Linked DNA regions of Homo sapiens: region 2 is linked to region 1. Evidence: fine-mapped expression QTL. A gene starts in region 1. The other region holds a variant in brackets. All regions are shown on one strand. Distances are from middle to middle. Region 1 holds the start of CA6 (carbonic anhydrase 6). Region 2 overlaps CA6 (carbonic anhydrase 6).

Region 1 (16,423 bases):
TGTGTGATTCCAACCATATGACATTTTGGAAGAGGAAAAACTATAGGTCAAATAAAAAGATCAGTGATTGCCAGGGTTTAGGAAGGAAGGGAAAGATGAACAGGTGGAACACAGGATTTTCATGACACTGAAATGATTGCTCGATACATGTGATTAGAAACCTTTCAAAACCTGACTGGGCATGGTGGCTCATGCCTGTAATCCCAGCACTTTGGGAGGCCGAAGTGGGCGGATGACTTGAGGTCAGGAGTTTGAGACCAGCCTGGCCAACATGGTGACACCCTGTCTGTACTAGAAATACAAAAATTAGCCAGGCGTGGTGGCACATGCCTGTAATCCCAGCTACTGAGGAGGCTGAGGCAGGAGAATTGATTGAACCCGGGAGGCGGAGGTTGCAGTGAGCCGAGATCGCGCCACCGCACTCCAGCCTGGGCTACAGGGCACGACTTCGTCTCAAATAAAAGAACCTTGCAAAACCAAAAATTAACAAATCTTTAATACGTCATGTCAACTTTACTGTTAAGCTTAGTGTTCATCAAAATCTCATTAGATTCAAAGTTTGTAGATTAGCTTTTTTTCCCCCTTCAGTAGAATTCCTGAATGTGCTTGGAGCTTGCTGAAAAGTAGCCAATGGCAATAGCCAAATAACTTCAAAAGCTAAATTATAAAAATCTTTCAAAATACTTTATATCAGGCTGGGCACGGTGGCTTATGCATATAATCTCAACACTTTGGGAGGCCAAGGTGGGCGGATCACTTGAGGTCAGGAGTTCGAGACCAGCCAGGCCAACATGCTGAAACCCCATCTCTACAAAAAATACAAAAATTAGCTGGGGGTGGTGGTGTGCGCCTGTAGTCCCATCTACTCAGGAGGCTGAGGCATGAGAATTGCTTGACCCTAGGAGGCAGAGGTTGCAGTGAGCCAAGATCATGCCACTGCATTCCAGCCTGGGTGACAGAGTGAGACTCCATCTCAGAAAAAAACCCTTTACATCGAAAAATGGAATTATGGCCAGCCTTGGTGGCTCGTGCCTGTAATCCTAGCACTTTGGGAGGCCAAGGTGGGCAGAGCACTTGAGGCAAGGAGTTCGAGACCAGACTGGCCAGTATGACAAAACCGCATCTCTACTAAAAATACAAAAATTAGCTGGGCGTGGTGGCACATGCCTGTAGTCCCAGGTACCAGGGAAGCTGAGGCAGGAGAATTGCTTGAATCTGGGAAGTGGAGGTTTCAGTGAGCCAAGATTGCACCACTGCACTCCAGCCGGGGTGACAGAGCAAGACTCCATCTCAAAAAAAAAAATTGTTTTTAATATATATATAATTAATGTGAACTTTGGGTCCACTCTAATGTCCGACATGCTGTCGTGTGAGGTGAGAACCCCAAAGGAACAGGCTTCCGGACCACAGAAATTTGAGCAGAGCCCTAAAGGAAGAAGGTACAGGGTCCTCTGGAAATTGGGAGGCGGGAGCCGCTGCAAGCCCCTTGGGAAGCTGGGCTCTTCTCTTCCATATGCCTTCCCTCTTCTGGGCCCTCAGCACGAAGCCCGCACTCAGCAAGCGTTGCCCATAGAGATCCTCCATCAATGATTGCTTCCCACCAGCTGTCCAGGGAGGGTGAACAAAGCCACTGCCTTTGGCCTTTGTGCTTCGCCCCTTCTCCACAAGGAGAGGACAAGGAGGGGAGGAAGAGTTCCGCCTGCCAATCTGGAAGCATCAGAGAGTAACTTTGGAAACAAGAGCTCGACATTATGATGAAAATGAGGCTTTTGTTCATTCTTTGTGTATTTCAGGGCTCCTGGCCACATAAACCTGAGTCCTTTTACAGACAGAGCTTCATTCTCCAATTTGCTACTTTCACCAACCCTATAAAGGACAATTGGTTTTCTTTCTTTCTTTTTTTTTTTTTCTTTGAGATGGAGTTTTGCTCTTGTTGCCCAGGCTGGGGTGCAATGGCACGATCTTGGCTCACTGCAACCTCTGCCTCCTGAGTTCAAGTGATTCTCCTGCCTCAGCCTCCCGAGTAGCTGGGATTACAGGCATGCGCCACCACGCCCAACCAATTTTTGTGTTTTTAGTAGAGACAAGGTTTCACCATGTTGGCCAGGCTAGTCTCGAACTCCTGACCTCAGGTGATCTGCCTGCCTCGGGCTCCCAAAGTGCTGGGATTACAGGCATGAACCACCTCACCAGGCTGGTTTTATTTTCTTGATTGTGCAAGATAAGAACACTAAGTCCTGTGACCCTTTTATTTTTTTATTTTAAAGAAACGGTCTCGCTCTGTTGCCCAGGGTGGAGTACAGTGGTAATCTCGGCTCACCACAACCTTGACCTCCCAGGCTCAAGTGATCCTCCCACCTCAGCCTCCCGAGTAGCTGGGACTACAGGCACTCACCACCACTCCTGGCTAATGTTTTGATTTTTTGTAGAGATGAAGTCTCACCAAGTTGCCCAGGTTGGTCTCAAACTCTGGCATCAAGTGATCCTCCCACCTCAGCCTCCTAAAGTACTGGGTTTACAGGCATGAGCCACCATGCCTGGCCAAGTCCAGTGACTGTCCTATCGCTGTGTGGCAGGCAGGGATGTATCTCAACCCAAGCAGGAGTGAGAGAGTGCAGAACCTAAGGAGGATGTGGCCAAGAAACCTGACAACTGGGGGTGTGAGCCCATCTTGGCCATTAGACAGTGTGTGGCCTTGGGTGAGTCCCTCGACCTCCTGAGGCCTCAGACTTCCTGCCTAAAAAATGCCCCCTCCTGGGGTGGTCATGAGGCTCAGAGGAGTCGAGCCAACTTGGAAAATCAGGAGGATATTCTGCACAAGTAAAGCACAGATTTCACAGTTTCCAGGCCGGGCATGGTGGCTCGTGCCTGTAATCCCAGCACTTTGGGGAGGCTAAGGTGGGCAGATAACTTGAGGTCAGGAGTTCCAGACCAGCCTGGCCAACATGGTGAAACCTCGTCTCTACTAAAAATACAAAAAAAATTAGCTGGGCATGGTGGTGCATGCCTGTAATCCCAGCTACTCAGGAGGCTGAGGCAGGAGAATCGCTTGAACCCAGGAGGTGGAGGTTGCAGTGAGCTGAGATCCTGCCACTGCACTCCAGCCTGGGCAACAGAGTGAGACTCTGTCTCAAAAAAATAAACAAAATTTACAGTTTCTCATATCGGATTCCTGAAGTGGGGCATCCCCACGGCCCTGCTTTTTCTGTCTGACCTTCACCTTCTTTCTTGTAGGGATCAGAAAGCCAGAGCTTTCTTCTTAAAACTCTGAGAAACCCTGGTCCTACCTGTCAGGTGCTTTGAGCTGAATAGACTCAATATAGGAAATGTGGAAAAGCTGACCCAAGGTGATGGACAGAAAGCCCCCGTGGGAAGGGTGGCTTCAGCAGCACGGCCTGTCCTGCCTGTCACCTGCTGGGTGGGTTGGGTGAGCTCGGGTAAGAGGATAACGCTGCAGGAAGGGACCAGCAGGGAGTTGAGTCGAAAGATGGATGCTGCCCTCTCTGGAAGAGCCACTAGGTTTCGGGGCCAGTCAGCCCTCATGTTCGACCCTCATGTTCGAGGCCTCCAGCTCTGAGGCCGTGCTCTGTGTCTCTGTGCAAGCCATTCCTGGCAGGGACACGTGTAACCTGCCTTCCCCTGCAGGCTGCCCATGGACTGGAGCCCCTCACCACCCCTTCCTCTTACCTGTGTGGCCATTGTTGACCATGGGGAACTCCCCTGCCTGGGTCTCATAGCCTGTCATATTGAGCCCCTTCAAGGAGGGGTTGTACCGCACCTTCGTCCTCTGTAGGTTGATAGGCGACTGTCTCTGGCCCCCACAGGCGGGGTAGTGCTGTGGCCAGTGCGCTTCGTCCAGTGCCCCTTCTAAGACAGGAAAGACACAGTTCAAGGGGCTGCCTGGCTGCGCCCACTCTGGAGGAACCTCACCAGGCCAGAGGCCAGAGGCCAGGGCCTGCTGGGCGGGGACCCACGGAGGCACCTTCCAGAAAGCAGAAGCAGGTCCCCCAGAAGGAGGCCAAAAAGACAACGAGGTCAACTCCAAGGACTCTGGTGTTTGGGGGGCTTTGGTGCTAACCTCTAACTTTCCTGTGGCAACTGCTGGCCCTGGGAGCAAGACAGTGTTTTGAAATCAATGGAAGTCTTTTTTTTTTTTTTTTGAGACAGGGTCTCGCTGTGTCACCCAGGTTGGAGTGCAGTGGTGCAATCTTGGCTCACTGCAACCTCTGCCTCCCAGATTCAAGAGATTATCCGGCATCAGCCTCCGGAGTAGCTGGGATTACAGGCATGCACCACCACGCCTGGCTAATTTTTGTATTTTTAGTAGAGACGGGGTTTCACCATGTTGGCCAGGCTGATCTCTAACTCCTGACCTCAGGTGATCCACCCACCTTGGCCTCCCAAAGTGCTGGGATTACAGGCGTGAGCCACCGTGCCCGGCCTGAGAGTGTTTTATACGTAAATTTTTGCTCTCGTTTGACTTATTTCCAGCTGGTGAATGCATGGAGGGATCCTTGGCTTTGCTCTTCCTGTGCTGCTCCTGGGGCCTCTTCCTCATTTCCTCCCAAGGGCCCAGTTGTCCTTCCATGCCCCCAACAGGAACACAGCCCCCACCTCCCCATGCTGCAGGAACCCCCCACCACTATTTTCTTGCTCCAGCCCCTTTTATGGATTCCCGTATGGTAAAGACCATCTAGGTGTCTACACTTATGGATTCAGGGAAACTAAGGAAGCATCAGGTTCCAGGACAACCTAGAATGAGTACTTTTTTAAAATTCATAAGGAGAAAGTTTATCTTTTCAGAGAGGGTTGATAATCGTAGGGGACAGAGTAACATAGGTGAGTGATTATCATGGTGACTTGGCTCCCATACAGCTGTGGAGCTTGGAGTCAGCCATGTGACATGGAGAATCCCACCTCTGTTCCCTGTTCGGGGGTAGCTGTGTGGTGAGTACACAGCTTGTTTTAAGACAGGTGTTTGTGGCTGGGCACGGTGGCTCATGCCTGTAATCCCAACACTTTGGGAGGCCGAGGCGGGTGGATCACCTAAGGTTGGGAGCTCGAGACCCACCCTGACAAACCTGGAGAAACTCCATCTCTACTAAAAATAAAAAACAATCAGCCGGGCATGGTGGCACATGCCGTTAATCCCAGCTACTTGAGAGGCTAAGGCAGGAGAATCACTTGAACCCAGGAGGCAGAGGTTGCGGTGAGCCGAGATCGCGCCACTGCACTCCAGCCTGGGCAACGAGAGTGAAACTCTCAAAAAAAAAAAAAAAGGTGTCTGTACTAGGGCCCTCACCGCTTTTTGGTTTGTAATCAAGGCAATTGGCCTGGAGCACAACGCCTTCTCAGAGCAAGATGCTTTGGCCCAGGGCACTGTCAATACTGGAACATCTCTCAGGTTTCCCTGGAAGGCATTTACAAAAGCTACTCTCAAGTTCTCCTGGAGCCCCTAGTAGTTTCCCAGGAAGCCCACTGTCTCAGAGGCTGGGCAGAGCCTGGGAAGGACAAGGACTTCATTGTCTGAATTCTCTCTTCCTTCACCTCTGAACCACCTGCCTGCACTGCTTGGCCAAGTGAAGCAGAATGCCCCAGGCTTCCGAGGCACTGCCATGTGTAAGATCACTGTCCTCAGGAACAGAGCGGTTGTTCAGAGCTGGCTGGACTTTCTGAACCTCCCAGGATGTCCCTAATTCCGTTGCCCTTGACTTAACAGATCATCCCGTTCACCCTGAAGGAATGCTTCCGGAGCAGCTGAACTGGGGCAGACTCTGCAGGAAGCAGATGTTTGTCTCACTTCCTGCATCAGCCAGCGGCCACCAGCCTCCTCATGGGCCCCAATCCATGGTCCCGTATGGAAAGAAGGGGGATGCGGGAAGAAGCTCTCCTCACTGCCCCTGGAAAGGGCTGTTTAGTGTCCACAAAGTCCACAGACACGGCCTTCTAGCTTTGGCTCACATGTGGACCAGAACCCATGTTGAATGCCAGGATTTTACATTTCACATTTTAAAAGTCTGGTTTGGGGCCTGGCGCGGTGGCTCACGCCTGTAATCCCAGCACTTTGGGAGGCTAAGGTGGGCGGATCACTTGAGGTCAGAAGTTTGAGAACAGCCTGGCCAACGTGGTAAAACCCCATCTCCACTAAAAATACAAAAGTTAGCCAGGCATGGTGATGAGTGCCTGTAATCCCAGCTACTTGGGAGGCTAAGACATGAGAATCGCTTGAAACCAGGAGGCAGAGGTTGCAGTAAGCCGAGATGGCACCACTGAACTCCAGCCTGGGCAACAGAGCAAGACTCTGTCTCAAAAAAAAAAAAAAAACAAAAAAAAAAACACCTCTCATTTTGGCAGCCCACAGATCAAAGGGAACTGGGTCCTTATGTCAAGATGTTCTGGGTAAACTGCCTACCATGAAATTTCCAAGAAAGAAGGTCTCGCAAACCCCACAGCACCTTCCGTGAGGTTACCGAGAGTCTTTTCTAAGAACTTTGTTTTCCACTTACACGGACCAACAAAGCAAATGGTTTTACAAATAGAAGCAGTGAGTGTGCTTTTGAACCAGCCAACACTGTGGATGGAAAAAAATTTAAAGCAAAAAGCCTGTAAGTAAATCAGGAGTTTGTGAAGGGGAAAGCTATTTCCTTCTTTTCCTTATTTGAAGTTTAAGTTCAGCTTATTCTCCATACCTTCTGAGACACTGAAAAGGTAACATCTGAAGCCACAATGAGCAGACCCCCAACATATGGCAAGTGGGCTGCCTGGCCATCCTGTGAAATGCCCTAAAGGAGGACTCTTGGCCGGGCGCAATGGCTCATGCCTGTAATCCCAGCACTTTGGGAGATGGGCAGATCACCTAAGGTCAGGAGTTCGAGACCAGCCTGGACAACATGGTGAAACCCTGTCTCTACTAAAAATACAAAAATTAGCCAGGCATGGTGGCAGGCACCTGTAATCCCAGGTACTCGGGAGGCTAAGGCAGCAGAATCACTTGAACCCGGGAGGCGGAGGTTGCAGTGAGCCAACATCACACTACTGTACTCAAGCCTGGGCAACAGAGCAAGACTTTGTCTAAAAAAAAAAAAAAGAAGAAGAAGAAGGGCACTTGTCCTGTTGTAAGGGTGTGAGGGTAACTGGGGGAGCATGCAGAAGCTAGGGGCTCACCTGAGTAGGTCCAGTCAGACACATGCTGGGCCTGGCCACCCAGCAGGAACAGGGACAGCAGAAGCACCAGGGCCCTCATGGTGCTGCACATCTGTAATGAAGACTGATTCCGGCGAAGCTCTTCTTTTAAAGGCTCAGAAACTGTAAATAACAATTTACAATTGATCTGCCCAGCTGGCTAAACCACCCTTTGCTGCACCCACTAAAACAATAACACCCTCCCCATAACAGCACTTCTGGCTCCGTGCATTGCGCCAGGCAGCCCCAGCACCTGCCTGATCTCCTCCCACGTCAATTTCATATCCGGTCAGTCCATGGGTTTGGTTGTTCAGTGTCTTAGGAACACCTGAAGAGCCACACAGTGCAGCCATTGTGGACAGGTGACCGCGGAAATGGGAAAAGGCCCAAGGCAGGGAGAAGCAGGATGAAAGACTTTCCTGGACGTCGGACTTCCCATGCTCTTTCTCCTGACATTAGAGATCTGGGGACTGCTGATGGGATCACCACTGCCTGCAAACCCTGCCCATCTCAGTCATGGACACAAGCCACCGCTGCAGACATGTGGCTGCCCTCAGCCAGGCATCCAGGGAGGTGGCCTGGCCTCCATGTTTGGACATTTCACGGTCCTCTCCTTAAACCAGTGGTTGATCCTGGGTCCCAGCTCATGAGCCACATTCCAATGTGTGCCTTTATGCCATTCAAGCTGGTGTGGGCGTCTGCATTTCTACATGGATTTGTTCTGACACCTGCAGGGCTCTTGGGCACACCTAAGCCAATCAGCCAATTGCCCTCGCAGGATCCATGGATTACCTAATCCTGTGTATTCACTTGGCTAGACAGTCCCTGAAATTAGCTGAAGGAGAAACTTTTGAGTTTATGCCTGCTGACAGGCCAGCATTTCCCATGCCCTTCCACAAGGTCAAACACAAAGGGTAGCCGGAGCTCCTGCGGGGGGGCTACCATGCTGCCGGACACAAAGGGCCACCCCTGCCTTGTTATGGGGAGCTGAACCCCCTCCTGGCCTAGCTTAACTCATTGTCCACTTGGTCCTGGAATGGCAAACGTCAGCAGGCCTTCACAACAAGGATGTTAGCGGTGAACGTAGGCCTCCCGAATACTTCTAAGACTCCCCACTGTCATTTAATAGGGAACATCAGCTGCTGCAAAGAACTTGCTGGAAACTTCCATTTCTAAAGCTCAAGAGCTGAAAGAATCTCAGAGAGAGAGCAAAGCATGTTCAAGGACAAGGATTCTGAAACTAGACAGGATCTGTGCCACCTGCTAACTGTGTGACCATGGGCAACTCAGCGCTCTGTGCCTCAGCTTTCCTTCCTTTTCTTTTTTCTCTTTCTTTCTTCCTTTCTCTCTTTCTTTTCTTTCTCTCTTTCTCTCTTTCTTTCTTTTTTGAGACAGGGTCTCTCTCTGTCACCAGGCTGGAGTGCAATGATACGATTTCAGCTCACTTCTCTTGGACTCAAGCAATCCTCCTGCCTCAGCTTCCCAAGTAGCTGGGACCACAGTCGCATGCCACTACGCCCTGCTAATTTTTGTACTTTTTGTAGATACAGGTTTTCACCATGTTGCTTAGGCTGGCCTCAAACTCCTGGACTCAAGCGATTCTCCCGCCTCGTGCTCCCAAAGTGCTGGGATTACAGGCGTGAGCCGCCGCACCTGGCCGCCTCCTTTCTTTAAAAGGAGTTAGTGATAGCACCTCCTTTGTGGGGATTCGGCAATAAATGTGCCTGCAGTAGTTGGAGCAGTGCCTGGTGTGTAGCAAATGGCATTAGCATCTATTCAGACCCCTCATTTTATAGGAAAAGGAAGTGATTTATCATTGCCACCCAGCTGGTTAGTGAGGGAACTGGAGGAAAAATGCTTCAATCTCCAGCTTATGGACCATTTCTTTGCAAAAATGAGAAACCTACTCTTCTGTCCTTGCTAAACCAGTGACGCCCACCTGCTGACTCCCAGCCCTGCGGAAAGGGCCACCTTGTAAATCACAAGGCCCCACCTCTGCTGAGGAGACCAAGACCCTTTACAAGCCCAGGCAGGACCCCTGACATCAAACTGGCAGGAAAACACAAACTCAGTCATCTGAATTTTTTCTTGGGAATCTGAATTGGGAGACCCAGAAAGAATCAGGGAGCTGCAGGCAGGCAGAGACTAAAATGTCAGGCTGTCACGGAAGCCTGGGAGGACTGGATGAGCCCAGGCGAGGGGAACTGGAGCAGGAAGGAGCTCAGAGAAAGCCTGGGCCAAGGGGGAGGGGAAGACTGCCCAAAGAGGGGCCCTGGAGAGTCAGAGAGAGGAGTGCTTGCGGGAGAGCACAGTGAAATGCAGAGGGCCCACCACTCCTGGCAGCTCCCAGCCCCACGGGTCTCACTGCCCTGCGGTGAGCATTTGGGGCTTCCCAGGAGAGCTCTGGGGCGTTCCTTGCCTCACACAGCTCCTTAAAATACAGTGCACATACTGCGTCTGTGAAGCTGTGATGCCAGCAGCCCCTCTGCAGAACTGCTGTGCAGCGTATCCACCCATCACATCTGAAGCTTTGCCCTGGTTTTGCCTTTCGCTCAGGCAAGAGCCTGGACTGGCCAGCAACCTGTTGACCTGGCTGGTGTTGAGAATTGGTGTGAAAGTGAGTAATTAAGGCAATACGGGGGTCAGATCAGATGATGGCCTCTTGGAGAAGCAAGGCCATCTGCCAACGAGGGCATATTTCTAGAGAGAGGGTCCCCTCCCTCCGCTGTACAGCACACTGCCAAGGACATACTGGACCCAGAATCAGGTGTGGTCAGTAGTGTTGCCTATTTTCTGACTCCTTGTCTACTTCAAACCTGAAATTTTCCGTCACCTTTGAACATGAGTCTTCTTCTTGGATTTGGGAGGCACATTGTTTGTTTGGGTTTGCTTTTGTTGGTGGTGGTGGCAGTGGGTTTTTGTTGTTGTTGTTTTTGGTTTTTGGTTTCTTTTTTGAGACAGGGTCTCACTCTGTTGCCCAGGCTGGAGTGCAGTGGTGCAATCATGGCTCACTGCAGCCTCCCAGTGCTCAGGTGATCCTCCCGCCTCAGCACCCCCTTCCGCCTCATCCCCTCCAAGTAGCTGGGACAACAGGTGCGTGCCCTATGTGTGCTCTGTTTTTGTTGCTTTTATTTTTAGTGTGTCTCTCTATGCTATGAGCTTCCTTCTGCCTTCATCCAACCATATCCTTGGCTGATCAAGGTTGTTTTTTTAATTCTAAACTCCTATTTTTCTAGGGTCTATGGTTGGATTGGCTGTCGGAGATGAGTTGACAAGTTTATCATTATTACAACATCAGGTCAAAGGGAGAAAGGAGCCTTTGTTCTTCCTTGCTTCTACCACTGCCCCCCCGACAAGGCCCACTGAGGCAAGGAAAAAGAAGGAGGCAGGGAGGCATGGCCAGCCCAGGTGGGCAAGAAGGCACCATCAGCCCAGGTGAGCAGGGACAGATCATGAACCAAATGACTAGGGAGGCACCGTTAGCCCAGGCTGCACAGGACCAGCATAAAAGAATGAGTCTGGCAGGCCAGGCACGGTGGCTCACACCTGTAATCCCAGCACTTGGGGAGGCCGAGGTGGGTGGATCACCTGATGTCAGGAGTTCAAGACCAGCCTGGGCAACATGGTGAAACCCCGTCTCTACTAAAAATACAAAAATTAGCCAGGCATAGTGGTGCGTGCCTGTAATTCCAGCTACTTGGGAGGCCGAGCCATGAGAATCACTTGAACCCAGGAGGCAGAGGTTGCAGCGAACTGAGATCACGCCACTGCACTCCAGCCTGGGCAACAGAACGAGACTCTGTCTCAAAAACAACAACAAAAACAAACAAAAAACAAACAAAAAAGAAAGAGTCTGCCTACACAAGAATATGCTTATTTGGGTGTAAGTAACACAGAAAGGCTATTGTTCTGTTTCATGCAGGAGTGTGAGCTCATCCTGAAGAATGAGTCACTCTGAACAAGTAAGTTCTAGATGGTTACAGGCTCAATCCTATGTAAGCACCAAGATGTTTAAAACCTCTAAAATGTACGGTACAGTTTTAAAAAGATAAAGCTGAATTTTATTAAACTTTTCTTAATGACTGAGTCCCACTAATATGAACATCAATTATTCTCCTGCATTGTAATATATTGATGTCTGCTGGGCCTATAACATATAACATATATATATAATTCTCCCTGCAAGAAACGACCCCTGGCCAGGCACAGTGGCTCACACCTATAATCCCAGCACTTTGGGAGGCCAAGGGGGATGGATCACCTGAGGTCAGGAGTTCGAGCCCAGCTTGGCCAACATGGTGAAACCCCGTCTCTTCTGAAAATACAAAAGTAGCCAGGCATGGTGGCATGTGCCTGTGATCCCAGCTACTCGGGAGGCTCAAGAGGGAGACTCCATCGTCTCAAAAAAAAAAAGAAAGAAAGGAAAGAAATGACCCCTAACTGTAGTTTTTGGATTTCTTTTACCAGATACTGAGAGAGGAAAGTTAGCTAGCTTAATTGATTACTAAAGCAATGCACGTTTATGCTCAGGGGTATCCATAAGGCTGGGACATAACCAATCAGGACAGAAGCCAGACTTGGTGTGGAGGAAAGTCTGAAAGCTCCCTGCTCTGCCAGGAGTTAACCCTGGATTGGTGGATTGTAGGGAGATTGGGAAGTTCTTGGGAAGGGCTGAGCGGCAGGAGCAGCTGGAGGTACCATTGTGTGTGTATTGATTTTGTTTTTCATTGTTTTTTCATTGTTAGCATTTCTTTCTTTTTTTCTTTTCTTTTTTTTTTTTTTTTTTTTGAGATGAAGCTTCACTCTTGTTGCCCAGGCTGGAGTGCAATGGCGTGATCTCGGCTCACTGCAACCTCCACCACCCGGGTTCAAGTGACTCTCCGGCCTCAGCCTCCCAAGTAGCTGGGATTACAGGCGCCCACCACCATGCCTGGCTAATTTTTGTATTTTTAGTAGAGACGGGGTTTCACCATGTTGGTCAGGCTGGTCTTGAATTCCTGACCTGAGGTGATCCGCCTGCCTTGGCCTCCCAAAGTGCTGAGATTACAGGTGTGAGCCACCGCGCCTGGCCCACTATTAGCATTTCTAACATGGGCTTCCAGCTCTTGCCTCTTAGGGTTGTCTGTCTGTTCTCATCTCCTGGCTTCCTCATCTGTTTGGCAGAAACCAGATGACCACACTTCTTAAAATTACATGTCCAAGAAGAATGGATAGAGCTAAGCCAACAGCCCAGAGACTGTCCTCTACCTAAAATACACACACTCTGAAATGCCTTCGGCATTTTGATGCTAAACTCACAGATTTCTATTTCCTTTCTGACTTTCAGCTATATCCATATAAATGGAGCATTGACAAGTCATTGTGTAAACTAACCCACTCGCAAAATATCCAGCTACAGTCAGGTCCAACTCCACGGGGGGGCCCTTGCTTTCTCTCACTAGCCTCCTGGTGATGAGTTCCCCAGTCTTAGAGAGTATCTCCAGCCTCACACATCCTCCTGGAATTCAGCACCTGTTGGGTAGGGTTGTCTCCCAACAGGCATCTCCTCCTGTGTCTCTATCCTCTTCCCCACTGGGTACCAGTAACCCACATCCAAAAGCAATCAGCCCAAAACCCTAGTGGAAATCCTCTTTTCTATCATTAATTTAGGTATAAGCAAAATAGGAACCAAATACCTAAAAATATTTACAGCTCAGCCTGCCATCATCCTGTGCCCCTTCTCTGTGCAAACTCACCATCCTCCTGCCACGAGAATTGGATGTTCTGTTTGTATCTCTTGCTGGCTCTACCTTCTACTTCTTGTAGAAGTAGAGTTCTGTGTTCTGTGTCTTTTATGTGGCAGAAGCCGGGAAGTCTTCCGTGGGCTTTGCTCAAATGGGAGGGTAAAATTCCCTACTAGGAGTGTTGCATCTGTATATGCCTGGGATTGGCCAGAGTGACTCCATCTTGGTTATTATCCATGAGTCTTGCTTATATCTCTTCAGTGTGCTCCACCCCTAGTAGGCCAGAGTCTTGCTTATATCTCTTCAGTATGCTCCACCCCTAGTTTACATCTGCATGGCAGGTTTGTATGCCTTTCAGCTCCACCCTTCCCTGGTCAATAAGCAGGTCAAATCCACCCTTCCTGATCAAATGCATAATGAGTCGTCACCCTCCCCTCATGCCTAAGGGACCGATTATGCAAGCAGAGGATTGTATTAGTTTCCCACTGCTGTAACAAACTGCCAAAAACTCAGTGCTTAAAACAACACAAGTTCATTATCTTACAGATCTAAAGGTCAGAAATTCAAAACCAGTTTCACTGGGCTAAAGTCAAGGTATGGGCAGGGGTGGCTCCTTCAGAGGCTCTGAGGGGATCATCGGTTCCCTTGCATTTTTCAGCTCCTAGTGGCCACCTGCATTCCTTGGCTCGTGGCTTCTTCCTTGAATCACTCCAATCTCTTGCTTCCTTTGTAGTTTGCTTAGTCCTTAGTGCAGCTAGGTCCGAGTTCTTGCTCTACGACCAAGAAGAATAAGGCACACAGACAGTGGAGAGTGAGTAGAATAGAACAGGATTTATTAAACAAAAGGAAAACTCTCAGCAAAGAGAGGGGTCCTGAAAGCGAGGCAGAAATTTAAAAATAACAATCATAATAATAAGTACTGCACTTATTCACCCCAAGAAAAGTAAAAGCTAAGGCCCAGAATGTGGCAAGGCAAGGTTTCAAAAGAAAAAGAAAAGGACAAGTTTTCCTCTGCTTAGCAAGCTCATTTCAAGGACTGTTAACAACGCTGTCGGAATAGCCAAGGCCAAAGGAATGGGCTCCAGACACTCCCCTGCTTCCAGAGCAAGGTTGAGGGGGAAAAAAGAGAGAAAGACAGATTATTTTACTGTTACTCTTTTCTCAGTCTTCTTAAGCATTATTATGTTTTACAAATGTCTGTATTTAGCCAGCTCTTGTTTTTCTTTCGATGCAGCTGCAAGGCCACCAGCTATGTAAGGTCACAAATTATGTTATGCTATAGATTACGTGACCTGTCACTGTATGATTAACTGCTTTTGTTTTGCTTCTGTAAGGCCACTTATAAAAACCCCACTCTGTCTTTGTTCAATGCTCAGCTTTTTGGATGTGAGTCCACTGAGCCAGTGCATACCGAAAATAAACAATCCTCCTGTTTCTCTCATATTGGTCTCTCCATTCCTCAGTTTATTGCAACAAAAGCAAGTTGCCAGAAACAGGGCTGAGTTCTGTGTCTTTTATGCCGCAGAAGCCAGGAAGTCTTTTGTGGGCTTTGCTCAAATGGGAGGGTAAAATTCCCTCCTAGGAGTGTTGCATCTGTATACGCCTGGGGTTGGCCAGAGTGACTCCATCTTGGTTATTATCCATGAGTGCCTAAACAAAACCCACCAGGGGGCTAAAACCACAATGCTAATGTTATGTTAATGACATTATAATGAGCTGGGTCAAGTGAAGGACATTTAGGTTGATTTATTGCACCTGCGCCTTGGTTGGGACAGTCACTTTTGAGCAACATCCTGGCACAAGGGGAAATTCTTAACCACATTTCTTCCCTTTAGCTGTTCTTCAGTTGTTTCTGTGAACATTGTCCCACTCTGTCCTTCTCCAGAGACCCTCCCTCTCTATCTGCCTAACCAGCTGCTAACTGCCCCCTCCCTCACTTCCTCCTTTGATCTTCTTGACCTCCCTCATATTACGGTCCTTGTGATTACATTTAGGGTCTACCCAGATAATCCAGGATGATGAGATGAGACTTAGTCACATATGCAAGTCCCCTTTGCCGTGTAATGTAACATACACAGGTTCCAGGGGATTAGGATGTGGACATTTTGGGGGGGGTCATTATTCAGCCTACCACAAAGATATTGGGAATTACCAAGATAAATTAAACCATGAGTTGCTGAAAATTGGATTTAGACTTCAGAGAACGGAGTAATAACTCAGCAATGTCATGAAATATACCAGGAATGAAGAGTCATAGAGGAGCCAAATGAACAAGGGCTAGCCTGTCCAAAGAATGTACTATTGCCAGGACATTTTTTCTGAGCTCTTAATGGTCACAGTGATATGACTAGAGTCAGCTGACTAGACTGGAAAAGTCCTGGTAACCTGCAAAACAGTAAAGAGAGAAGCAGGGTCAAACACCCAGTGTGAGCCGGGCTCGCTGGCTCACGCCTGTAATCCTACCACTTTGGGAGTCTGAGGCTGGTGGATCACTTGAGCTCAGGAGTTAAAGACCAGCCTGGGCAACATGGTAAAAACCCATCTCTACAAAAAATACAAAAATTAGCCAGGTGGAGCTGGGCACGGTGGCTCACACCTGTAATCTCAGCACTCTGAGAGGCCGAGGCAGGCAGATCATGAGATCAGGAGTTCGAGACCATCCTGGCCAATATGGTGAAACCCTGTCTCTACTAAAAATACAAAAATTAGCTGGGCCTGGCGGCACATGCCTGTAGTCCCATCTACTCGGGAGGCTGAGGCAGAAGAATCACTTGAACCCAGGAGTGGAGGTTGCAGTAAGCCAACATCATGCCACTGCACTCTAGCCTGGGTAACAGAGCAAGACTCCGTCTCAAAAACAAACAAACAAACAAACAAACAAAACAAGCCAGTTGTGGTCGTTTGCACCTGTAGTCCCAGCTACTTGTGGGGCTGAGGTGGGACAATCGCTTGAGCCCAGGAGGCGGAGGTTGCAGTGAGCTGAGATCACGTGACTGCACTCCAGCCTGGGCACCAGAGTGAGACCCTGTCTCAAAAAAAAAAAAGACCGTGCTCAGACCAGCACTCCTTGAATGTGGCCTCCCTCACCCAAGATACAAGAGTCAACTTTTGGCTGAATCACAGTTTGGCATGAAGAGGGAAGCTCCACATCAGAAATATACAGTCTTGTGGCCGGGCGCAGTGGCTCAGGCCTGTAATCCCAGCACTTTGGGAGGCTGAGGCGGACAAATCACCTGAGGTCAGGAGTTCGAGACTAGCCTGGCCAAAGTGGTGAAACCCCATCTCCACTGAAAATAAAAAAATTAGCCAGGCGCATGTCTGTAATCCCGGCTACTCAGGAGGCTAAGGCAGTAGAATCACTGGAACCTGGGAGGGAGAGGTTGCAGTGAGCCAAGATCACACCACTGCACTCCAGCCTGGGCAACAGAGTGAGACTCCATCTCGAAAAAGAAAAGAAAAGAAAAAAAAAATATGCAGTCTTTTACTTAGTGTCCACACAAACTTCTATCATATTTTTT
Region 2 (16,423 bases), 27 kb before region 1:
GGCTTACGCCTGCAATCCCAGCACTTTGGGAGGCCGAGGCAGGTGGATGATTTGAGGTCAGGAGTTCAAGACCAGCCTTACCAACATGGTGAAACCCCGTCTATACTAAAAATACAAAAATTAGCCGGGTGTGGTGGCGCGCGCCTGTGACCCCAGCTACTTGGAAGGGTGAGGCAGGAGAAATCACTTGAACCCAAGAGGTGGAGATTGCAGTGAGCTGAGATCGTGCCACTGCACTCCAGCCTGGGCAACAGAGCAAAAGTCCATCTCAAAAAAAAAAAAGGGGAGCCATTATCTGGTTATAAGGTGTTAATTGCTTGTAGGTTGTTTTTGTTGGTAAGACGTTTCAGTGAACAGACCTAGGAAATACATGTTTTTAGAAAGAGAAAAAGAATTTATTGCCAAGTGCAGTGGTGCGTGCCTGTAGTCCCAGGTAGCTGGAAGGCTGAGGCAGGAGGATAGCTTAAGCCTAGGAGTTCTGGGCTGCAGTGCACTGTGCCAATCAGGTGTCCACACTAAGTCTGACATCAGTATGGTGACCTCCCTGGAGCAGGGGACAACCAGGTTGCCTAAGGAGGGGTGAATCAGCCCAGGTCAGAAATGGATCAGGTCAAAACTCCTGTGCTGATCGGTAATGGGATCATGCCTGTGAATAGCCACTGCACTCCAGCCTGGGCAACATAACAAGATCCTGTCCCTAAAAAAAAAAAAAAAAGAATTTATAAATTTATATTGATATTTCTAAATTTATGATTACAGAGTTTTTATCTAGCTTTGTTAATTTTTTTTTTTTTTTTTGAGACAGGGTCTTGCTTTGTCACCCAGGCTAGAGTGCAGTGATACAACCACGGCTCACGGCAGCCTTCACCTCCCTGGCTCAAGCAATCCTCCCACCTCAGCCTCCTGAGTAGCTGGGACCACAGGCATGGACCACCATGCCTGGCTAAATTTTATTTTTTGTAGAGATGAGGTCTTGCGGTGTTACCTAGGCTGGTCTTGAACTCCTGGGCTCCAGTGATCCTCCCACCTCAGCCTCCCAAAGTGCTGTGATTAAAGGTGTCAGCCATGAAGCCCAGCCTAATTTTTCAATTTGGATCTCTGTTTTTTATGCTGAAAATCTTGTTAGTGAGGACATTAACATAATTATTTGTGCACATATAGTAGTAGAGGATAGTAATTGCACACACACACAATTTCAAAATAACAATACCAATATAATTTTTAAGAGGATTCCTAAGTACTGTTTAAGATTCCTTGGTACTTCTTCTTGTCCTTAGGATATACTGCAGCAGGTATGTAGATGAAAAATACCGTGTCTAAAATAACATGAAAAAATCCTTCAGTGTTCATGCCACCGGCCCTATGTATAATTGTTCAATTGTTCTGCTATATTTTTATGTTGAAACGTAACTCGCGTTTTATGTTTCAGGAATGCTTTTTTCCTTACTTACTTAATTTTACTTTGCAATTACATAAAGCCTGATGTTCCAAAGTCAAAACTACCAAACAGGGCACATCCAGAAAACTCCACCTTCCCACGCCACCCTCAGCACCCTTCCCCTGCCTTCTCTTTTTAGGAAACCTTTTTTTGTTGTTGTTGTTTTTTTTTTTTTTTTTTTTTTTTTTTTTTTTTTTTTTGAGACAGAGACTTGCTCTTTCGCCCAGGCTGGAGTGCAGTGGCGCGATCTCGGCTCACTGCAAGCTCCGCCTCCCGGGTTCATGCCATTCTCCTGCCTCAGCCTCCCTAGTAGCTGGGACTACAGATGCCCGCCACTACGCCCGCCTAATTTTTTGTATTTTTAGTAGAGACGGGGTTTCACTGTGTTAGCCAGGATGGTCTTGATCTCCTGACCTCGTGATCCGCCCCCCTCGGCCTCCCAAAGTGCTGGGATTACAGGCGTGAGCCACCGCGCCTAGCCTAGGAAACCATTTTAATTTATTTTTGGTTTCTTTTTCCCTGTTTGTGCTTCAAAACATAAACAAATACTTAACTATATTCATATTTCTAATTCTTCTTGTGCCATCTGTAAAATTGCTTTTTTCAGGCTTAAAAACATAGCCTACAGGCCAAGCGCAGTGGCTCATGCCTGTAATCCCAGCACTTTGGGAGGCCAAAGCGGGCAGATGATCTGAGGTCAGGAGTTCGAGATCAGCCTGGCCGACATGGCAAAACCCATCTCTACTAAAATTACAAAAATTAGCCAGGGCGTTAGTGGCATGCACCTGTAATCCCAGCTACTCAGGAGGCTGAGACAGAAGAATCACTCGAGCCTGGGAGGCAGAGGTTGCAGTGAGCTGAGATCGTACCACTGCACTCCAGCCTGGGTGACAGAGACTCCATCTCAAAAAAAAGAAACAAATGTAGCCTAGAGATTATTCCCTATGCAGTTCTCTGTTGTGTGAATAGCCCTGGTTTAGTCAACCAATCCCCAACTGATGGACGTTTGTGTTTTTTCCTGTATTTTGCTGTTAAAAAGGTCAGCATGAATGGCTTTTTTGCAAGTTTCTTTCTTTCTTTCTTTCTTTCTTTCTTTCTTTCTTTCTTTCTTTCTTTCTTTCTTTCTTTCTTTCTTTTTTGAGATGGAGTCTTGCTCTGTCGCCAGGCTGGAGTGCAGTGGCACGATCTCAGCTCACTGCAACCTCCGCCTCCTGGGTTCAAGCGATTCTCCTGCCTCAGTCTCCCGAGTAGCTGGGATTACAGATGCACGCCACACCCAGCTAATTTTTTTGTATTTTTAGTAGAGATGGGGTTTCACCATGTTGGCCAGGATGGCCTCGATCTTCTGACCTGATGATCCACCCACCTCGGCCTCCCAAAGTGCTGGGATTACAGGCGTGAGCCACCGCGCCCGGCCACAAGCCTCTCTTAAGGATAGACTTTCAGGGGTGGGAGGGCTGGATCCCTGAGGACAGGCAAGTGTAATCCCATCTCCATCTTCATTTCCTTGTCTGCCTTCCCACAGGAATGTAAGTAAGCTCTTTGGCCGTACCGCCCACTGTTGCGTCTCTCATTCATTATAGACACACATATCTGGTGGAAAGAATGAATCGCACCGTGTCGTTCCCCTGTGGAAACCCTGCAGTCGCTGCCGTCACCTACAGGGTAAAATCCGAAACCCTTTAGTGGCACAGAAGATACCAGTGACGGCCTGACCTGCCCTGGCCACACCCCCGCTTTCCGTGCCAGCATCCTTGAACTTGGTCCTCTGACCACGCCAAATTGCTTCCACTTCCCCAGGTGTCTTCCCATCAGCACATGCCACACTCTCGGGTTACAATACCCCCGCCCCTCTCTGACTTGGTTTCCCAGGTGAACTCTTTCTCAGCCTTCAAAACCCAGGCCAAGCACTTGGATTTTAAACACAGGCGCTCCCTCCACCATGGGGCGATATGGCGATTACTTATTTTAGTGTCCACTCTGCTCACCAGACCCGAGCTGTAGGAGTGTGGGAGCTGTTCTCACCCATCCCTGAACCCCCAGCACCTAGTGTTATGTCAGGCTCAGAGCAAGTGCATAAGAAAGCTTGTTGAGAAAATGAAAGGGAGGCTTCCTATGGTTAAAAGAATGTGGATACAAAAGACTTGGGTTCAAATCCTGGCTTTTCATCTGCCACCTAGGAGATCTTGGGCAAGTCGACGTCTTGGTTTGCTTTCTGTAAACTGGGGATAATGCAAGTTCACTGAAGGTGGCCTTCGGGGCTGAGGGCAGTCACGTGTGGTGGAAGTGCTTAGGATATGACAAATAATGACATGGAAAAACAACAGAGGTAACAAGAGCAGAAGGAATTCAGAAGAGCCAGGGTGAGCTCAATCAGAAGTGAGGAGGAAGCTAAGGCATGGGAAGGAAGGGGCATCGATGAAGGGAATGCATAAGTGACCAAGAAAATTGGTAGCAGCCAGGTGTGGTGGCTCATGCCTATAATTCCAGCACCTTGGGAGACCAAAGGTAGGAAGATCACTTGAGCCCAGGAGGTTGAGGCTGCCATGAAGCTAGGATCACCACTGCACTCCAGCCTAGGCCACAGAGCAAGATCCTGTCTCAAAAAACATAAAAATAAAAATAAAAAATATGGGTCACTCTTCTGGGTACTTCTCAGTGTTATTTAATGATAAAAAAAATATGGGTCACTCTTCTGGGTACTTCTCAGTGTTATTTAATGAAGCCACAGCCCTATGAGCCCTGTGAGGTCATGTTATCATCCCACATAACTAATGGGATGCCTGAATCTGGGTCTGGTAACAAGGACCAGGCACCATTTGACCAACAAGGGGGTTTGCAGTGAGGTCCCCTCTCTTCTTTCCTTCTGTCCTGGGAGCCCTTCTTCTTTCTCGTCTCCTGTTTTTTCTTTGACTCACAGCCACTGCTCCAAACTTCCCCACTGACAAATTCTCAGTGTAAGAATCTCTTCCTAGGCCAGGGGTGGTGGCTCACGCCCGTAATCCCAACACTTTGGGAGGCCGAGGCAGGAGGATCACCTGAGATCAGGAGTTTGAGACCAGCCTGGCCAACATGGCAAAACCCCATCTCTACTAAAAATACAAAAATTAGCTGGGCGTGGTGGTGCACACCTGTAATCCCAACTACTTGGGAGGCTGAGGCAGAATAATTGCTTGAACCCAGAAGGCAGAGGTTGCAGTAAAATTATACCACTGGATTCCAGCCTGAGCAACAAAGCGAGGCTCTGTCTCAAAGGAAAAGAAAAGGCCAGGCGCGGTGGCTCACGCCTGTAATCCCAGCACTTTGGGAGGCCGAGGCGGGCGGATCATAAGGTCAAGAGATCGAGACCATCCTGAGCAACATGGTGAAACCCCGTCTCTACTAAAAATACAAAAAATTAGCTGGGCATGGTGGTGCGCAACTGTAGTCCCAGCTACTCAGGGAGGCTGAGGCAGGAGAATTGCTTGAACCCAAGAGGTGGAGGTTGCAGTGAGCCAAGATTGTGCCACTGCACTCCAGCCTGGCAACAGAGTGAGACTCCATCTCAAAAAAATAAGCAACAACAACAAAAAACACCTCCTTCCTTTTTATTAATCTTAGTCTTGGAAATCCCTCCCACTTTGATCTCTATCCCTTCACCTATGTGCGGTTGTGGGGGAGTAGGGGGAGGAGTGGGGGGAGGAGTCGGGGGCGGGCAGAACAAAGAAGGGATATTTGAAGTAATACAAAGGAATAGGAAAGAAATTTTTAAATGACAAATTTCCAAAGTTATTTTATTACATCTAATGCTAAAGGAAAGGTCAGGCTGGTTTATAATTCAGACAGGTCAACATATATGATTTGATGGGAGAATAGTTAGGGTTCCATTTCCTTTAAGTTTCTATTCCAATCAATTTCCACTGGTGATGTCTAACTCAGATCCCGTCTCATGAACTGAAGCCATCTCACTTCCTGTCCAGGATGATCGTTTCCCCTCTTTTAATCAGAATCCCAACAGCTGCCCCAGGGGGAGCAGCGTGTTCCAGACACACATGGTTTCTTAGACAAGGTAGGGTGCGGCTGCAGCGGACAGGCACTTCTGGCTAGGTCAGGCTTCAAGCTAGTTAATATTGAATCTTCCTCTTAGCTTTCCTCAGTTCAATGCTCTTCTTAAGTAGTCAAGAATTTCCTCAATCTTATGTAGGTAAAACTGGAATTCAGAGCCTAGAGTGTATTCTGTAAAAAGAAGAGTTAGTCGGAAATGGTTAAACCTTGTACAGTCCTCACAAAAACAGAGAAGGGGGACGGCCAGACACCATACCCGCATCGTATTTTTGGGAAGTCTTTTGATTCCTTAGAATGCTCTCCACGTGCCCGGTGCATTGCCTTTAGTCATCTTCACTGTGTTTGAACTCAGGCTTCTAAGCTGCCCAGAGCCAAGGGGTGGCGTGTTGAGGTGGGCTGTACTCTTGGATTTTGGCTTCTCCCACGATGCCCCCCGTGGCCCTTGCCTGAGGGGATATAGGCGTTTTCTAGTAAATAAATCGCAAGAGGTCCGTATTTGGCCATCGTCTTGTTTTTGTAACTGACCTTGGTTTCTCAATTCACTCCTTGCAGGTGGGTTAATCATATCAACCCCGCTGGGATACAGTTCTCTACAGAACAGTGAAATACCATGAGTCACGCAGCTGGGTTGACCACAGCCAATCACTGCTACATAGAAATCTGGGCCTGGCCAGGCGCGATGGCTCATGCCTGTAATCCCAGCACTTTGGGAGGCTGAAGTGGGTGGATTGCTTGAGCTCAGGAGTTCGAGACCAGCCTGGGCCACATGGCCAAAGCCCGTCTCTACAAAAAAATACAAAAATTAGCTGGGTGTGGTGGTACATGCTACTCCCAGCTACTTGGGAGGTCGAGGTAGGAGGACTGCTTGAGCCCTGGAGGTCATGGCTGCAGTGAGCCAAGATTGCGCCATTGCACTCCAGTCTGGGCAACAGAGCAAGACTCTGTCAAAAAAAGAAAGAAAGAGAGGAAGAAAGAGAGAGAGAGAGAGAGAGAGGGAGGGAGGGAAAAGAAAGAAAGAAAGAAAGAAAGAAAGAAAGAAAGAAAGAAAGAAAGAAAGAAAGAAAGAAAGAAAGAAAGAAAGAGAGAGAAAGAAAAATCCAGGCCTGAGGGAAGGTGGGCCAAGATGATGCCCAGTTGTCTGTTCTATAATCAGCAAAGGGAGGCCACAATTCGGGTTCCCTGGGGGTAAGGAAGCCCTCTGATGCTGAACTGGGAGTTGAAGTAATCGATCCTAAACAGCGATTCTTAGTGGACCTACAGACAAATCACAGCATGGAATACCTCAGTCTGGGGCCGGTACCTAGAACATCTGACCCCCTCGTGAGGAGATGCTAGAGTGACGCTGTAGTGGAAAAAGCATTTCAGATGTGGCAAATAGAACGATACGCAGTCTGTTAGTGACTATTGCAAGAATAGCGTAAAATTGTTTTAGGGAAAGCAGGGGAAATATGGCAACATTTAGACCTAGGAGACAGGCCGGGCACAGTGACTCACACCTGTAATCCCAGCAATTTGGGAGGCCGGGCAGGCGGATCACCTGAGGTCAGGAGTTCAAGACCAGCCTAACCAACATGGTGAAATCCCATCTCTACTAAAAATACAAAAATTAGCCTGGCGTGGGGGCGCGTGCCTGTAATCCCAGCTACTTGGGAGGCTGAGGCAGGAGAATTGCTTGAATCTGGGAGGCGGAGGTTGCAGTGAGCCCATGAGATTGCACCACTGCACTCCAGCCTGGGCGACAGAGTGAGAGACTCCAAAAGAATTAGGAGACAGACCCATGAGTCTAAGCTCCCTTTGGTCAGCCTGCTTGCAATTGGACCTGTTAAAGACGACATCACTTTCGGACAAAGGGATTCTTGCTGTTAATGTTGTATATGGTATAATATGGGGAAATGATTACTGTAACTGATGTCAGTTTTTTTCTTCTGTTAGTATTGTATTGGAGGAGTGAATTGTATTTCAGGAAACAATATAGAAAACACCTATATCCTCTGTTAATTCAGTAAGTGAACCAGGAAGGAAAGGTGGGGAGAAAATCACAAATAGGCCTTATTCGGGTTGGGGAGGTGGAAATTTAATTTTTTTGTTTGTTTGTTTGTTTTGGTTTTTTGAAACAGAGTCTCTCTCTGTCGCCCAGGCTGGAGTGCAGTGGCGCAATCTCGGCTCACTGCAAGCTCCGCCTCCCGGGTTCATGCCCAGCTACTCAGCCTCCCCAGTCTCAGCCTCCCCAGTAGCTGGGACTACAGGCGCCCGCCACCTCGCCTGGCTAATTTTTTGTATATTTAGTAGAGGCGGGGTTTCACCATGTTAGCCAAGATGGTCTCGATCTCCTGACATCGTGATCTGCCCGCCTCAGCCTCCCAAAGTGCTGGGATTACAGGCGTGAGCCGCCACACCCGGAGGAAATTTAAGTTTTAAAAGGTACATATAAAGATGGGATAAGGCCGAACGAGGTGGCTCGTGCTTATAATCCCAGCACTTTGGGAGGCTGAGGGGGGAGGATTGCTTGTGGCCAGGAGTTTGAGACCAGTCTGAGCAACATAGTAAGAGTCCATCTCTACAAAAACTACAAAAAAAATTAGCTGGGTGTGGTGGTGTGTGCCTGCAGTCTCCGCTACTGGGGAGGCTGAGGTGGGAGGATCACTTGAGCCTGGATGTTTGAGGCTGCAGTGAGCCGTGATTGTGCCACTGAGCTCCAGCCTGGGCAACAGACTGAGACCTTGTCTCAAAAAAGAAAAAAAAAGTGGGATAATATTGAGTACACAATATTGATAGGATACTGATTCTACTGTATTGGAAAATATAAAGGTATCAGGAATGGTTAACAGAATGGGCTGTAAAGACAATGGATTCACCACAACTTTACAGAAAGCAGACAAAATAAAGATGAGGAGGCTGTGAAATATTTACACTCTTGCCAACACAGAAACGAGGTGAGCCAAGGACACGGTTGGAGCCTGATCCAAGGAACTGGAGGATGCAGCGGAGGCTGGCCTGCCCGCACCTGCTTCCAGCACGCTGGGGTCTGGGGCCTGCGCCCCAGGCAGATGCAGGGAACAATATGTGGTCTAGTTAACTCCACTTTGAGAGAATGTATAGGAGGCGTTGGGGGTGGGTTCATAACACAGACTATGATCAAGATGCGCAGGAAATAATCTGGGTGGGGTTAATAAGGTTAACTTGGCCAGGCACGGTGGCTCCCGCCTGTAATCCCAGCACTTTGGGAGGCCGAGGTGGGCAGATCACCTGAGGTCAGGAGTTTGGGACCAGCCTGGCCAATATGGCAAAGCCCCATTTCAGTTAAAAAAAAAAAATTAGCCGGGCGTGGTGGTAGGTGCCTGTAGTCCCAGCTACTGGGGAGGTTGAGGCAGGAGAATTGCTTGAACCCGGGAAGCAGAGGTTGTAGTGAGACGAGATTGCACCACTGCACTCCAGCCTGGGTGACAGAGTGAGACTCTGTCTCAAAAAAAAAAAAAAAAAAGGTTAACTTGAACCTACACTCTTGTGAGAGCTTCCGGATGTTGTGGTCTTCTTGCTTCTCCTGCTCTCTCTAGCCAAGACTAGGTAGGTAATAAATCACGTAGCTGTCGCTTCTGATTGTCTCGTGTGTTCTACTCACTGGCATCCCTGCCTGGACTGGGAAAAAGTCATCACCCTCTGCCCAAGCCCTGTGCAGCTTGGCCCACCTGAGCCTCTTGCTACTGAAATGACTCTCCTTCCCTTATATCACCAGAAGAGATGGGTCCACCTAGAGGAAGGAGCAAAACAGGAGTTAAACTGCAGAGCATGATCAAGAGTCGGTCTCACTCACCCTGATTCGGGAAGTTGGATTCCACCACTCTGTGGTTCAGGGGCTGGGTCCTGCGGTAATCGTTGTGGATGGTCTTGTTGCGGTGATCCAGTAAGGAATTCTCCAGCTTCCAAACCTGGGGGCAACGTGAGTGCATTATGGAGGGGAAGAGTCACTGGGTAATTTAAAAGAAATAACAGTTGGCCCGGCGCAGTGGCTCACGCCTGTAATCCCAGCATTTTGGGAGGCTGGGGCGGGCAGATCACTTGAGCTCAGGAGTTGGAGACCAGCCTGGCCAACATGGTGAAACCTCTTCTCTACTAAAAATTAGCTGATCATGGTTGTGTGCACCTGTAATCCCAGCTACTCAGGAGGCTGAGGCAGGAGAATCGCTTGAACCTGGGAGGCAGAGGCTGCAGTAAGCCAGTATCACGCAACCGCACTCCAGCCTGGGAGACAGAGAGAAACTCTGTCTCAAAAAAAATAAAAAATAAAAAAGAATTAACAACTGGGCTAGAGTTTGGATTTATATAACCCTGATGAAGTGACTGTAAGAAGATCTCAAGTCCAGGGGAGGTTCTGGGTGCTGTGTCTCAGGCATTATTCCAGAACTAATCTATCCGTGCATTCTTCCAACAGGTATCTGCACACAAGCTCTCTTTTCAGCTTTTTATATGAGTATTTGTCCA[G/A]TAGTAGAAAGGAGAGAAAGAAGAAGCAGAAATATATCAAGTGGCAAACTCAATTTTTGTTTTTCTGAAAATGTCAGGTTTTTCTCTTTTTTTTTTTTTTTTTTTTTTGAGACCAGAGTCTCGCTCTGTCGCCAGGCTGGAGTGCAGTGACGCGATTGCGGCTCACTGCAACCTCCACCTCCCGGGTTCAAGTTATTCTCTCCTGCCTCAGCCTCCTGACTAGCTGGGACTACAGGCACCCACCCACACACCCAGATAATTTTTATATTTTTAGTAGAGATGGGGTTTCACCATGTGGGCCAGGCTGGTCTCAAACTCCTCAGGCCATTCGCCCACTCAGCCTCCCATAGTGCTGGAATTACAGGTATGAACCACCTCACCTGACCTGAAAATGTCTGTATTTTGTCTATATCCTTGAAAGGCATCTTTGCTGCACATACAATTCTATATTGGCTATTTTTTTTCCCTCGGCACTTTGAAATTATGTTTCCACTCCCTTCTGACTTTCACTGTGGCTGTTAAATCAACTCTCTGTCTAATAATACTCTTTTCATGATAATCTGTCTTTTCTTTCTGGCTAATTTTTAAATAGTTTCTTTGTCTTTGATGATTTCAATGTGATGCGTTTACTGCAGGATGTTGTGTATACACACACACACATATCTACACACCCAGAGAGAGAGAGAGACAGAGAGAGAAACTAATTGGCATTCTTGAATATATGACTTGGTATCTCTTCCTGAAAATTGTCAGCCAATATTTTGTCAAATCATGCCTCTTCCCTACTCTGCCTCTCTTCTCCTTCTAGGATTTTGATTAGACATTTACTAGACCTTTCCAGTACACAATGTCTCTTCACTTCTTTTCATAGTTCCATCTCCTTTTCTCTGTGCTGCATTCTAGATAATGTTATTGGCTGTCTCCAATTTACTAATTCTCTCTCAAACTGTATCTAACATGCGTTAAACCCATTCATTGGGTTTTTGTTTTTGTTTTTTTGAGATGGAGTCTTGCCCTGTTGCCCAGGCTGGAGTGCAATGGCATGATCTCAGCTCACTGCAACATCCGCCTCCTGGGTTCAAGCGATTCTCCTGCCTCAGCCTCCTGAGTGGCTGGGATTATAGGTTCACACCACTATGCCCGGCTAATTTTTTGTATCTTTAGTAGAGACAGGGTTTCACCATGTTGGCCAGGCTGGTCTCGAACCCCTGACCTCGTGATCCACCCGCTTTGGCGTCCCAAAGTGCTGGGATTACAGGCTTGAGCCACCGTGCCCAGCAAACTTTTTTTTTTTTTGAGACAGGGTTTTGCTCTGTTGCCCAGGCTGGAGTGCAGTAGTGCAATCTTGGCTCACTGCAACCTCCACGTCCCAGGTTCAAGTGATTCTTCCACCTCAGCCTCTGGGGTAGCTGGGATTACAAGCGCCCCACCACCACGACTGGCTAATTTTTTGTACTTTTAGTAGAGACGGGGTTCCACCATGTTGGCCAGGCTGATCTCAAACTCCTGACCTCAGGTGATCCACCCACTTTGGCCTCCCAAAGTGCTGGGATTACAGGCATGAGACACCACAACTGGCCTGGATTATTAATTTTTGATACTATTTTTCCATTTCTAGAAATTCTATTTGAGTTTTTGTCCCAAGTCTGGATGTCCATTTTTATACTTTTTTGCTCTTTTCTCATATTTAAACCTTTTATTTCTTTATACATGTTAAACATTCTTATGTCATATTAATTGTCTGATAATTCCACTAACTGAAGTCTTTGTAGGTCTGATTCTGCTGGTTCTCATCTATAATGTCTTTTTTTCTCATATGTTTTGTATTTTTTTTTCTTAATTGAGCTAATTTCAAGTAACTTTATTTGTGAAAATTCTTCTAGGTCTGGATTTAAGGTCATTTTCCCAGAGATAATTTACCATTTGCTTTTGTCAGGTGTCTGGGGGCACTTCTAGCCTGACTGGCAACATTTTGGAGTGTGAGTGTCCTTGAGCAGGGGTCTTTTCCACCTTTTTCTAAGGAAATGAAAAGTTTAAGAAAAGGAGATGGCCGGGTGCAGTGGCTCACACCTGTAATCCCAGCACTTTGGGAGGCTGAGACAGGCAGACTGCTTGAACCTGGGAGTTTGAGACCTGCCTGGGCAACATAATAAAACCCTGTCCCTACTAAAAATAAAAACTAGCCGGGCGTGGTGGCACACTCCTGGAGTCCCAGCTACTCGGGAGGCTGAGGCAGGAGAATTGCTTGAACCTGGGAGGCGGAGGTTGCAGTGAGCTGAGATCGTGCCACTGCACTCCAGCCCAGGTGACAGAGCGAGACTCTGTCTCACAAAAAAAAAAAAAAAAAAAAGGTTGGCTAGACGAGGCACAGTAGCCCTGCACACAGAAAATACTGTAGGACCCCTTAGTTGTTGACGTTCGTTGAGATGCTGGGGAGAACCCTTGTTAACCAGGCAATCGAATGGGAAGACTTCGGCAAAGTGATACCATACATTACCTGTGTCCTGGAGAGCTTGACAAAATCTGCCAGCACAAACCAGTGGACGTTCTCAGTGCAGGGAGGCGTGGTGAGTGAGCCATGGTAGGTGTAGTAGTGCTGGAGGTTCCTGGGCAGCATGTCCTGAACGTCAAGGCCAGTCAGGGTTGTTCTTTGTCCTGACCAAGAAGACAGAAGGTAACAGAATGTCAGGGACCAGCGCTGCCCCTCGGGAGGACAGCTCAGGCCCAGGCCTCGCCAGGTTCCAATCTCTTGAGTTCAGCAGAACATAGAAGCTGATGATTAAGAAACAATTTCCCAGTTTACTTCTTCCTGGAAGGGATTGAGAGGAGAGACTTTGGGGATAGACGCACTCAGACACCTGCTCCTGGCTGAGTGCTCTTGGCCGGGTGCTCACCCTGCGGCCATTTTCTCATCTGTAGAAAGGGAATAATCAGCAGGATTGTTGTGAGGGTAAGAAGGAATAACGTCTGGAAAGCAGCTGGCATTGAACCACTACATAGGGAAGTACTCCTAAGTGTAACTGCTGCGGTCACCATTATCATGGCTAGGCAGAGGACACATTTTATGATCAATGAAAGAAATAAATATGGCCCCTGGAGACTTCTGGGTAAGTGCCCTTGAAGAAAGACCAAAATGCCTTGGTTTGGGCTCATTGAGAAGTGGGTAGACAACAGTTGTAAATGCAGAATCAGGCCAGGCGCAGTGGCTCACGCTTGTAATCTCAACACTCTGGGAGGCCAAGGCGGGAGGATTGCTTGGGGCCAAGAGTTCAAGACCAGCCTGGGCAACACAGGGAGGCCCCGTCTCTACAATAAGTTGTTTTTTTTATTATTTTTTTAAATAATAAATGCAGAATCAGAACCAAGCCAGGGTCCAGGTACAGGCATTTGGTCCTGAGCTCTTCCTGCCACAACCGCTGGAAACCAAGCCCAGCCACAGGTGGGGCGTAGGGTGGGGCCACTTCCACCAGGCCTGCAAAACTCCTGCAGCAGCCACACCTGCTCCTGCTCTAGAGAGGTCCTTGTTTCATTCATGTCAACAACACTGAGCCCCTGAGCTCAGCACAAGACTCTCAAGGCAACACAGGATTGAGTTGGATTTTGCTTCACTTTCCCTGAGCACTTCTGCGCTTCTTAAAGGCAGAGAACATAGTTTTGATACATACGTAGATAGGCCTGTTCAACCAAGGCCACAATGTCTCAGAGTGCATAAGCCCATGAGTAGGCAAAAGAGTTCTAAGTTTGATTATTATTGGAAGATTTCAAGATATAACCTCCAAAAGGGCTCTGTGGTAGAGATTTATTTTTGTAACTCTAATATATTTAAGTGAAAGTCAAGAATTCCAGAATCATGATGCAGCCACCACGGAAAATGGTATAATAGTTCCTCAAAAAATAAACATACGGCCAGGTATGGTGGCTCACACCTGTAATCCCAGCACTTTGGGAGGCCGAGGCGGGTGGATCACCTGAGGTCAGGAGTTTGAGACCAGCCTGGCCAACATGATGAAACCCCGTCTCTACTAAAAATACAAAAATTAGCTGGGCATGGTGGCACGTGCCTGTAATCCCAGCTACTCGGGAGGCTGAGGCAGGAGAAGCGCTTGAACTTGGGAGGCGGAGGTTGCAGTGAGCCGAGATCAAGGCACTGCACTCCCGCCCCAGCGAGACTCTGTCTCAAAAAACAAAAAAAAATTAAAATTAAAAAAACATAGATTACTATGTGACCCAGCAATTCTACTCCTATCTACCCAAAAGAAATGAAAGCAGGGACTCAAAGAGATACTTGTACACCTATATTCATAGCAGCGTTACCTCACAATAGCCAAAAGGTAGAAGCCACCAAAATGTTCACCAGTAGATAAATGGATACACAAAATATCATATATCCACACAATGGAATATACTTCAGCCTTTTTTTTTTTTTTGAAGCAGAGTCTCACTCTGTCACCCAGACTGGAGTGCAGTGGCACAATCTCAGCTCACTGCAACCTCTGCCTCCCGGGTTCAAGCGATTCTCCCGCCTCAGCCTCCTGAGTAGCTGGGAATACAGGCACCCTCCATAACACCTGGCTAATTTTGTATTTTTAGTAGGGACGGGGTTTCACCATGTTGGCCAGGCTGATCTCAAACTCCTGACCTCAAGTGCTCTGCCAGCCTTGGCCTCCCAAAGTACTGGAATTACAGGCGTGAGTCACCTCGCCCAGCCACTTCAGCCTTTAAAAGGAATGAAATTCTGATAACATGCTACAATGTGGGCAAACCTAAAAGACATTATGCTAAGTGAAATAATCCAGACCAAAAAAAAAGACAAATACTGTTTGATTCTACTTATATGAGGTACCTAGAATAGTCAAATTCTTAGAGACAGAAACTGTGGTTACCAGAAGCTGGAAGGGGAGATGGGGAGTAACTGTTGAATGGGTACAGAGTTTCAGTTTAGGAAGACGAAAAAAAGTTCCGGCAATGGAGCGGGGTGATGGTTGCATCATACTGTGAATGTTCTTAATGCTACTGAACTGTACATTTAAAATGGTTTAAGGGGTAAGTTTGTTGTTGTTGTCGTTGTTTGAGATGTTGTTGCGCTCTGTCGTCCAGGCTGGAGTGCAGCGACACAATCTCAGCTCACTACAACCTCCACCTCCCGGGTTTAAGCGATTCTCCTGCCTCAGCCTTCCGAGTAACTGGGATTACAGGCGTGCACCACCATGCCTGGCTAATTTTTGTATTTTTAGTAGAGACGGGGTTCAACCATGTTGGCCACACTGGTCTCAAACTCCTGACCTCAGGTGATCAGCCCGCCTCCGCCTCCCAAAGTGAGGGGATTACAGGTGTGAGCCACCGCACCCAGCCTTAAGTGGTAAGTTTTAATTCAGGCTGTGGGACTGCGTGGAGTCACTGAGATGAGACAGAGCCTGACTCCACCCAACATTTAGGGCAGGAGCCAGAAAGAGAGTGAGAGGGCAGAGCTGGGGCGCGCCAGACCACCCTTTGAAGGTAAACTAAGACGAGAAGAAGAGTGGCCCATAGATCTGACCGTCACTCCGGCTCCGTGGAGCATTGGGGCCAGCTCAGGGTGGGGTGGGTGAGAATGGAGAACAGGACTATTCTATGACCTTTTCAAGGGGAGCCAGAGAACTGGGGGAAGCTGGGGAATGGTAAGGTCAGGAGATAACGTTTGTTTGCTTGTGTTTGGAGGTGGGAGGAATTAGGGCAGATGTGTGTGCTGAGCAGGAGGCTTTAATAAAGAGTAAGACATCAACGATGCAGACCGGGCACGGTGGCTCATGCGTGTAATCCCAGCACTTTGGGAGGCCGAGGCGGGTAGATCACAAGGTCAGGAGATCGAGACCATCCTGGCCAACATGGTGAAACCCTGTCTCTACTAAAATACAAAAAATTGGCCAGGCATGGTGGTGTGTGCCTGTAATTCCAACTACTCAGGGGGCTGAGGCAGGGGAATCACTTCAACCCGGGAGGCGGAGGTTGTAGTGAGCTGAGATCATGCCACTGCACTCCAGCCTGGTGACAGAGCAAGACTCCATCTCCAAAAAGAAAAAAGAGAGAGAGAGAGAGAAATCAACGATGCAGAAGACCAGGGAGAGAATAGCAGGAAAGGAGGCCCTGAGCATGGGAGAGGAGTGGGGTTGGGCCCCACGTGGGAGGGGTGGTGTTGACAAGAGCAGGGATTTGTCATCCGTTGCAGCTGAAGAGGGGATGTGGAATTTGGTCCAGATGCACGTGGGTTAAGGAGCGGAGTGTTTCTGGCCTGTGGCTTCTGTCTTCTCAATGGAGTGGGAGTGGGAGCGTCAGCTCCAGGGGAATTGCTGGAGCCCAGGCACAGGGGCTTCAGGAGAGAGGAGAAAGCATGTGACAGGAATTTGGGAGGTCAGAAAGAAAATGCCCAGCGTGATACTTTAGGATTTCTGGGCACTGTTCATATTTGTAGCTATGAATAAAAAA

Evidence for each region.
Region 2: its variant is fine-mapped to the expression of CA6 in whole blood (TOPMed, PIP above 0.99). The same link has a PIP of 0.9 or more in blood mononuclear cells.

Annotation. Positions count from the first base shown.
Region 1 is chr1:8,936,707-8,953,129 of GRCh38, reverse strand. It overlaps CA6 (carbonic anhydrase 6), which reads right to left and starts at 7,262. Exons shown (of 8, transcript NM_001215.4): 1 at 7,165-7,262; 2 at 3,688-3,867. The coding sequence starts at 7,243.
Region 2 is chr1:8,963,852-8,980,274 of GRCh38, reverse strand. CA6 (carbonic anhydrase 6) reads right to left here. Exons shown (of 8, transcript NM_001215.4): 6 at 12,459-12,616; 7 at 9,294-9,408; 8 at 5,183-5,653. The coding sequence ends at 5,571. It also overlaps the pseudogene RN7SL451P. Among named protein-coding and RNA genes, the nearest start is that of CA6, 26 kb to the right of the region's middle. The variant G/A (reference allele first, on the strand shown) is at 9,962.